Linked DNA regions of Homo sapiens. The protein of the gene in region 2 purifies or fractionates together with the protein of the main gene of each other region. This does not show direct contact. Each region holds a gene or a part of one and is shown on either strand. Other genes may lie near its edges.

Region 1 (3,828 bases), on a different chromosome or scaffold from region 2:
TGCTATTTGGCTCAGCAGCAACCCAAGGGAGTGGGAATAAGGCTTGGTGTGTTGAGAACTGCTCCTGCCTCCTTTTGACAGCCAAGGCTGGCAAGGTTGTTTGGAAATCTGACAAAGAGCAAGTCTACTTTCTACAAGCAAAAAATCCCAACCACTTCACAGTCACTCCATTAAAGTAAAACTAAATCTCTCTGAAAAATAATATGCTTTGAAACCCTCTGTTACATTTATAAAAAGAAAAGGAAAAACAAAAAATTTCAAAGTTAAAAAAGAAACCTTTAAAAATATTGTAGCAATAGCCTTCTTCGTAACAAATATAAAACAGCTTAAGACACTTGGTGACTTTCTTAGTTCATCTGTGGGGGAATGGATACACAATGAGGTTTTACTACTAAAGTTAGCTATTTGGTAAAAACTCTAGGAAGAGTTCCATCAAGAAAATGGTTATTTTGGAAAGACAAGTTATGATTATTTCCAAAATGTCAAAAGAAATAAGAATGTAAACACCATATACTTAAAATGTTAATACAATAATATTAACTCAGTCAAATAAATAAAAGAAAGTGGCACCAAATTTATGGCAATTTTTCAAAACAAAAATGTAGCTTAAATATATTTTAAAATAAATAATTGGTTCAAATACGGACGACCATTCTCAGCACAAACTAACAACATTCAAAATAAAGTGCTATGAGAAAAAGTAGCCCCACAATCTTCAACTTATTCACATATGAACAGAGATACTATCTGGATCTTTAGGTCTGAAATATTCACCACGAGTGAAAGCTAGAGGCCAGGCTTAGGGCCATCTTTTGTCATTTTTCTTTTTTCTTCCAGCGTGTGCTTAAATATTTTCTTCAGGGTGTTGTAAACTGTTGGTCCATTTTCAGAATCAAAATTAACCTGGTGACAAAGAAATTTATATTCAGGACACTGTAACAAGAATTTGAACTAGTTTCTATTTTGAGAGAAGGAGGGGGTGGAGAAAAAAAACAGACTTACAAACAAAACTCTATATAAAATACACATAATAAATTTCACACATTTTATTTGAAAGACTATTAGAACTGCCAACCATGTCAATATCAAACTTATGAATGAAAACCCCAAAATTAAATCTAGTGCCTGGATATTTAGTCTAATTATATACACCCAGTCATGAAGCAAGTCAACAGTGGGTGTGAAGTGAATTTTTTGAGACTAATCATTGATGGTATAAGAGAAAAGTTTCCCATATTAAAACAGCACATCAGCTGTATACGTCCTGCTGAGAGGCCCTACGGCCACTCTGGACAGGGTCAGAGTGACCTGAATAGAAGCCCAGCTCCCCACCTGCCAGCTACATGTCCTCATCTCATACCCAACCTCTCTGGACCTTGATCTCCTCCTTTGTAAAACAGAGATAATGATACCCACCTTCATAGGATAGCGTATCTATGAGTCTAACATGTTTGGCACATATATACAAACCTCAACTGGCTGGGTGTGGTGGCTCATGCCTGTAATCCCAGCACTTTAGGAGGCCGAGGTGGGAGAGTTGCTTGAGCCCAGGAGGTTGAGACCAGCCTGGGCAACATGGCAAAACCTCATCTCTACAAAAAATTAAAAATTTAGCCAGGCATGGTGGCACATGCCTGTAGTCCCAGCTACTTGGGAGGCTGAGGTGGGAGGATTGCCGGAGCCCAGGAGGCAGAGGATGCAGTGAGCTGAGATTGTGCCACTGCACTCCAGACTGGGTGACAGAGTGAGACCTTGTCTCAAAAAACAAACAAACAAACAAACAAACAAACAAACCCCACCTTGATAAAGTAAATTTCCTTTCCCCTTGATGGGAGCGCACTATTTACACATATTTGCATTTTTCACCCAAGTTTACCATACTCTGGGTTAGCAGTGATGGCAGGACAGAGAACCAGAGCAAGTACCCACCCTCAACCCCATTCCCAGAGTAATGTGTAACTCCCTGGGAAAGAATCAGGGTCACACAATCACTGCTTCTCTGCTTCTGGAATTTCTCCCTCTCTGATAAATTTTGACAAATGAAAGGTTGTTCCCTCTGTCAACAACTGTAAAGGATCTGAGACCTTAACCTGTTAGCTTGCCAGTGTTATGGATACTGGTAGAAGATACGAGATTCCTGGGTCAGAGACAGACAACTTTTATTTCTCACAGCTGCATGTGCTTCATGTTCACATGGGTTCTCCTTGTCTCTCAAGTCTCATGGAGGCAATGCAGAAGGGCCTAGGTGGAGGCTGCACAAGCACGGGGTTTGCCTCATAGCTGAGGAGCCCCAAGCTTAGGAAACTCCAATGTTTCACAAGGGGGCTGCAAGCAAATCTGCCAACCTTTGCCCTGAAGGGAAACATTTTTATTATCCTGGAAGTCAGAACGTGTGCCTTCTGCTCTCCAGGCAGAGCTCTCCAGACATTAGTGAAGAGTTGATCCTCAAAGAGAGTGGTCAGGGCATCTGCTCATCAGACTATGAAGAGACATGAGAGACCCAAGGAAAACTGTCTCCTAACATTTTCTATAGACAGATTTTGAACAACTGTTATCTCTAACTTTTCATTCGTATCCCCTTAAAAGGCCAAAAGAAGTTGTAAAGAATTCCTACTGCTTTCAGAGAGACCAATCGTAAGGATTTTTTTCAGTTAAGCTCAGGAATTTAATTTTATCTATAACTATATTATCTATCCCCTTTGCAAAAAACTCCTTATTAACATTAATAATGGTGTGAATTGTTTACTTTTTTTTTTTTGAGATGGAGTCTTGCTCTGTCGCCCAGGCTGGAGTGCAGTGGTGCAATCTTGGCTCACTGCAAGCTCCGCCTCCCGGGTTCACACCATTCTCCTGCCTCAGCCTCCCGAGTAGCTGGGACTACAGGCGCCTGCCACCATACCCAGTTAATTTTTTTGTATTTCTTTTTAGTAGAGATGGGGTTTCACCATGTTATCCAGGATGGTCTTGATCTCCTGACCTCGTGATCTGCCCACCTTGGCCTCCCAAAGTGCTTGGATTACAGGCTTGAGCCACCATGCCTGGCCACTTTTTTTTTTTTTTTTTTGAGACAGAGTCTCGCTCTGTTGCCAGGCCGGAGTGCAGTGGCGCGATTTCGGCTCACTGCAACCTCCACCTCCCGGGTTCAAGCCATTCTTCCACCTCAGCCTCCTGAGTAGCTGGGACTGCAGGCGCACACCACCATGCCCAGCTAAATTTTTGTACTTTAGTAGAGATGGGGTTTCACCATGTTGGCCAGGATGGTCTCAATCTCCTGATCTCATGATCCACCCATCTCAGCCTCCCAAAGTGCTGGGATCACAGGCGTAAGCCACCACTCCCAGCTCTGTTTACTTTCTTAAACACCAAACCACAACCTTCTTCACATGGTGGGTAGCCTCTCAGTCTATGAAAGTGTAAATACAGATGTAAAGGACCACGCGGTTTGGATTTGAGACTACTGACTCTGGAAACAGTGGAGAACAGATTGAAAAGATGTCAGTGGTTAGTGCCATAGAATCCAGATGAGGAACAAGGAAGGCCTGAAGTAAGAACATCACTCCGGAAAGAGTGGAGGGGAAGGAGACTGGACAAATATTAAAAAGGAAGAATCTTTATAACTTGTTAATGAGTATAAATAATAACTTCTTATCATTAATGTTACCACAGATGTTGTCATTCAAAAGCTGGGTTCTTTGTTTAATGACACTTTCATATCAATGAGAGGTAACAAACAAATTATAGATACTTTCATATCAATGAGAAGTAATAAACAAATTATAGCTGATGGGGTAAGGGGAAACTTTTCTCTCAGTATGAACCTGGCTGCTT
Region 2 (3,064 bases):
GAGAATTGCTTGAACCCAGAAGGTGAGGTTGCAGTAAGCCAAGATCACGCCACTGCCCTCCAGCCTGGGCAACAGAGGGAGAGTCTGTCTCCAAAAAAACCAAAAATGTTATATGCAGATTTTTGATTGTGCAGGGCGTTGTCATCCCTGTCCACTGTTGTTCAAAGGTCAACTGTAGATGATGTTCCAGTGGTTGAAATCAGAAGCCACTTCCAACAGCTTTGACTGTGGTGTTTTCATATCTCTACCAGTAGGAATGGCTGGTAAACCCAGACAAAATTTAGGGCCCTGTTTGACCAGTCGTTTTTTGAGACTGGAGAGATTTACAGCACTCAATTCCTTTGGCAATGAAACAAATAAATGCTGTCTCTTTGGCCTCACCAGCAAAAAGGAGGCTCAACACCTTACTAAGACTCTACCAGTATAGGAGGCAGTACATGATGCCATCATGGGTGGCTCCCATATGTGAACATGTAGAAACACAGGGACCAGCACAACCTTGTTTCATTCTGATTGAACTTATGCTTCTCTAAATTTGTCAGAGTGGCCTTGGATTATACCATGTATAGCAACCGAGGCTGCAACTACTCAGTGACACTACTTATGTGACTGAAATCCACATATGATGATTTAAATCAGATTTGACAATACTTCTGAACTAGAGTAACCTGGACCCTTTGGGCTTATGTACTTGTATGTGGGGAAAATAAGCCATAGAAGGGCTCTCCATAGGGAACAGGTTTGTTTTTTGGCCCAGCTATTGCACCCATAATTATTGATAATAACACCACATATCAGTACGTCAGTCAAAGCTCCCTTTATTGGGTCATAAAGTATAATAAATTGTCCTTCACTACATTCTGGCTGCCTAATAAAAAGACCTATTGGTCCTCCCTTGGAACTTAGAGTTGATTGAGTCAAGACCTTGGGGGACAGGACTGAGGTTAATACTGCAGGTTGGCTTCATCCTGCTGCTGTGTCTGATAATAGCCTGCATTAATTGCTATATGAGACCAAATGAACAAATTTGGTACTGACTAAACAACCCGACTGTCAGGTTAATCAGAGTAGCTGATAGAGTGGCATACTCATGTGAAAATTCAAGTTTGGCCAAGAACATCTCAGGCTGAGGAGCAGACTGTTGGAAGAGACTATCCACTATGGGCTCTGAGTGTCCCTGCATACTTACTGGGTATGTCAAGAATGCAAGGACTTTGTCTTTACCTAGTCCATGTCCTAGGCTTGTGTTTACACTAAGCTATCTTCAAGTATGGGGTAATAACTCCCTTTGGACAAAGACCAGGATTTTTTTGCTTACTATAAAAGCAGTTAATAACCCAAGCTTACAACATAACCCACTGTGTGCAGGCTTTCATCATGGGCCCTTTGTGTTCCTCCTGTGGGAACTAGAAAAATGAGGAACTGAATAAAACCAACATGAAGCTCTGGCTACAGCTTTTGCTGTGAGCGATAAGTCCTTTGTTTCTGACCCAGGTGTCTTATGCATTCTGTAGCATCCCACGAAACAGTAACAGGCTAACTTGTTAGCTTATAAGTAGGGTAAAATCTCAGACCATGCACAGTTATTGACAGACATCAACTATTTTCTTCTTGGCAATAGCTGGCATTTTAGGCACCATGACTTGGCTATCAATATATTTATTATTAGCATGACATATTATGAAAAATTATTTTCCAAAGACTTAGCCAGTAACACTACAAAAATAGAAAGCCCGTTAATTCCTGTGAATTTATCTGTGTGTGTCCATGTCCAGTAATTATTTCACTGTCTGTCTGAAGTACTAACAATACTAAATCCAATGCTCGGCGCCACGCCTCAATCTTTGGTGTAACAACGTCATAAACTCTCGGAATCTGCTCCAGTTTATTTGAAATGTCTGAATTAAAAATTCTACTATTTAGTTTACTATATTCATTCAAGATGTAAGATGAAGGAGAGCCAGAGTCTGTGGCATTTTGCAGATGATGTTGAATGTATGTGCTGGCTTCAAATTCTGATGAGTAATTGGCAGTGTTATATAGGAGAGTTGAAAGGTATTTCTGCCATCCATTTGCCAGGAATTTAAGCACAGTTGGTCTGTATATTGCCAGAGATGAAGCCAGCCAAGAGGAAGTATTATGCAGCCACCCTGAGCAGGCATGGTTTTCTTTTTTCAGAGATTGCTCTGCAAGAATATGAAGACAGCTAAGACACAAAAATTCAACTGCACCACCTCCAAGGAAGACCTTTTCCTCTTTTAGAGCATAATACAAACGATAGGCACATGTCCAGAACCTATCTTCTTTGATTTGCATCTGTGCAGTAACTGGGTTAGTGAGCACGGCCGTAACCAAATTAATTCCTTCTGTTTTTAATAAGATTGCGATTCTGTTGTTCCTATCTACAACATCCAAAGGGCTGCTTCTCCAGAAGGTCACGCAGACCCCGTCGCCCACACAATCTTCATTCACTTGTGTAATGTAGGCCACCTGTACTGCTCCTGCAGCCTCTGCAAAAGCCTGCATCACACTGCCATTCACTGAGCCGATTACCAACCGCTTACTGTTTATACATTTTTCAATTAAGCGTTCGGACACATTTCCTTGTACCAGGACAAGGTTCACCTTGAACTGGATTAACACCTGTAACACGTGATTTGCCCACAGTTCTTCTGAGCTGTCTTCTTGAAGCCGCATGCTATCTAATACTGTTTTAATATTTGCAGACTTATTAAATCCCAGGTGGCGGTAATTCTCTGTGAGGTCACCCTCAATGAGAACTATTCGCACAGGCTGATTCTGCAATTCCTTGATCACAGGATTATTAGATACTGACACAACAGTGATATATCCTGGACAAACACAAGAAGAAGTTTCAGGTAAGCCTGGTAGACAGCAAGTGAAAATTCTTGAAATGTCAAACATAAATGGTTTTGTACAGTTGCCTTGTTGCACACAAGCATTCTGATATTGCAGCTGTACTGCTTCTTCTACTAACTTCATGCTGCTGTGATCTCCATGACTCAAGCCTACTGCCAACTCTACCAAATCATTACATCTGTAA

The links.
Region 1: the proteins of BBS12 (region 2) and PTPDC1 purify together in Homo sapiens (affinity purification with mass spectrometry; one large-scale study listed by BioGRID and IntAct). This does not show direct contact.

What each region holds. Positions count from the first base shown.
Region 1 is NC_000009.12:94,104,903-94,108,730, reverse strand, and holds part of PTPDC1 (protein tyrosine phosphatase domain-containing protein 1), read right to left. Parts: intron 904-3,828; coding exon 787-903; 3' UTR 1-786. UniProt on the Homo sapiens protein: May play roles in cilia formation and/or maintenance.
Region 2 is NC_000004.12:122,742,678-122,745,741, reverse strand, and holds the end of BBS12 (chaperonin-containing T-complex member BBS12), read right to left. Parts: coding exon 1,717-3,064; 3' UTR 803-1,716; downstream 1-802. UniProt on the Homo sapiens protein: Component of the chaperonin-containing T-complex (TRiC), a molecular chaperone complex that assists the folding of proteins upon ATP hydrolysis.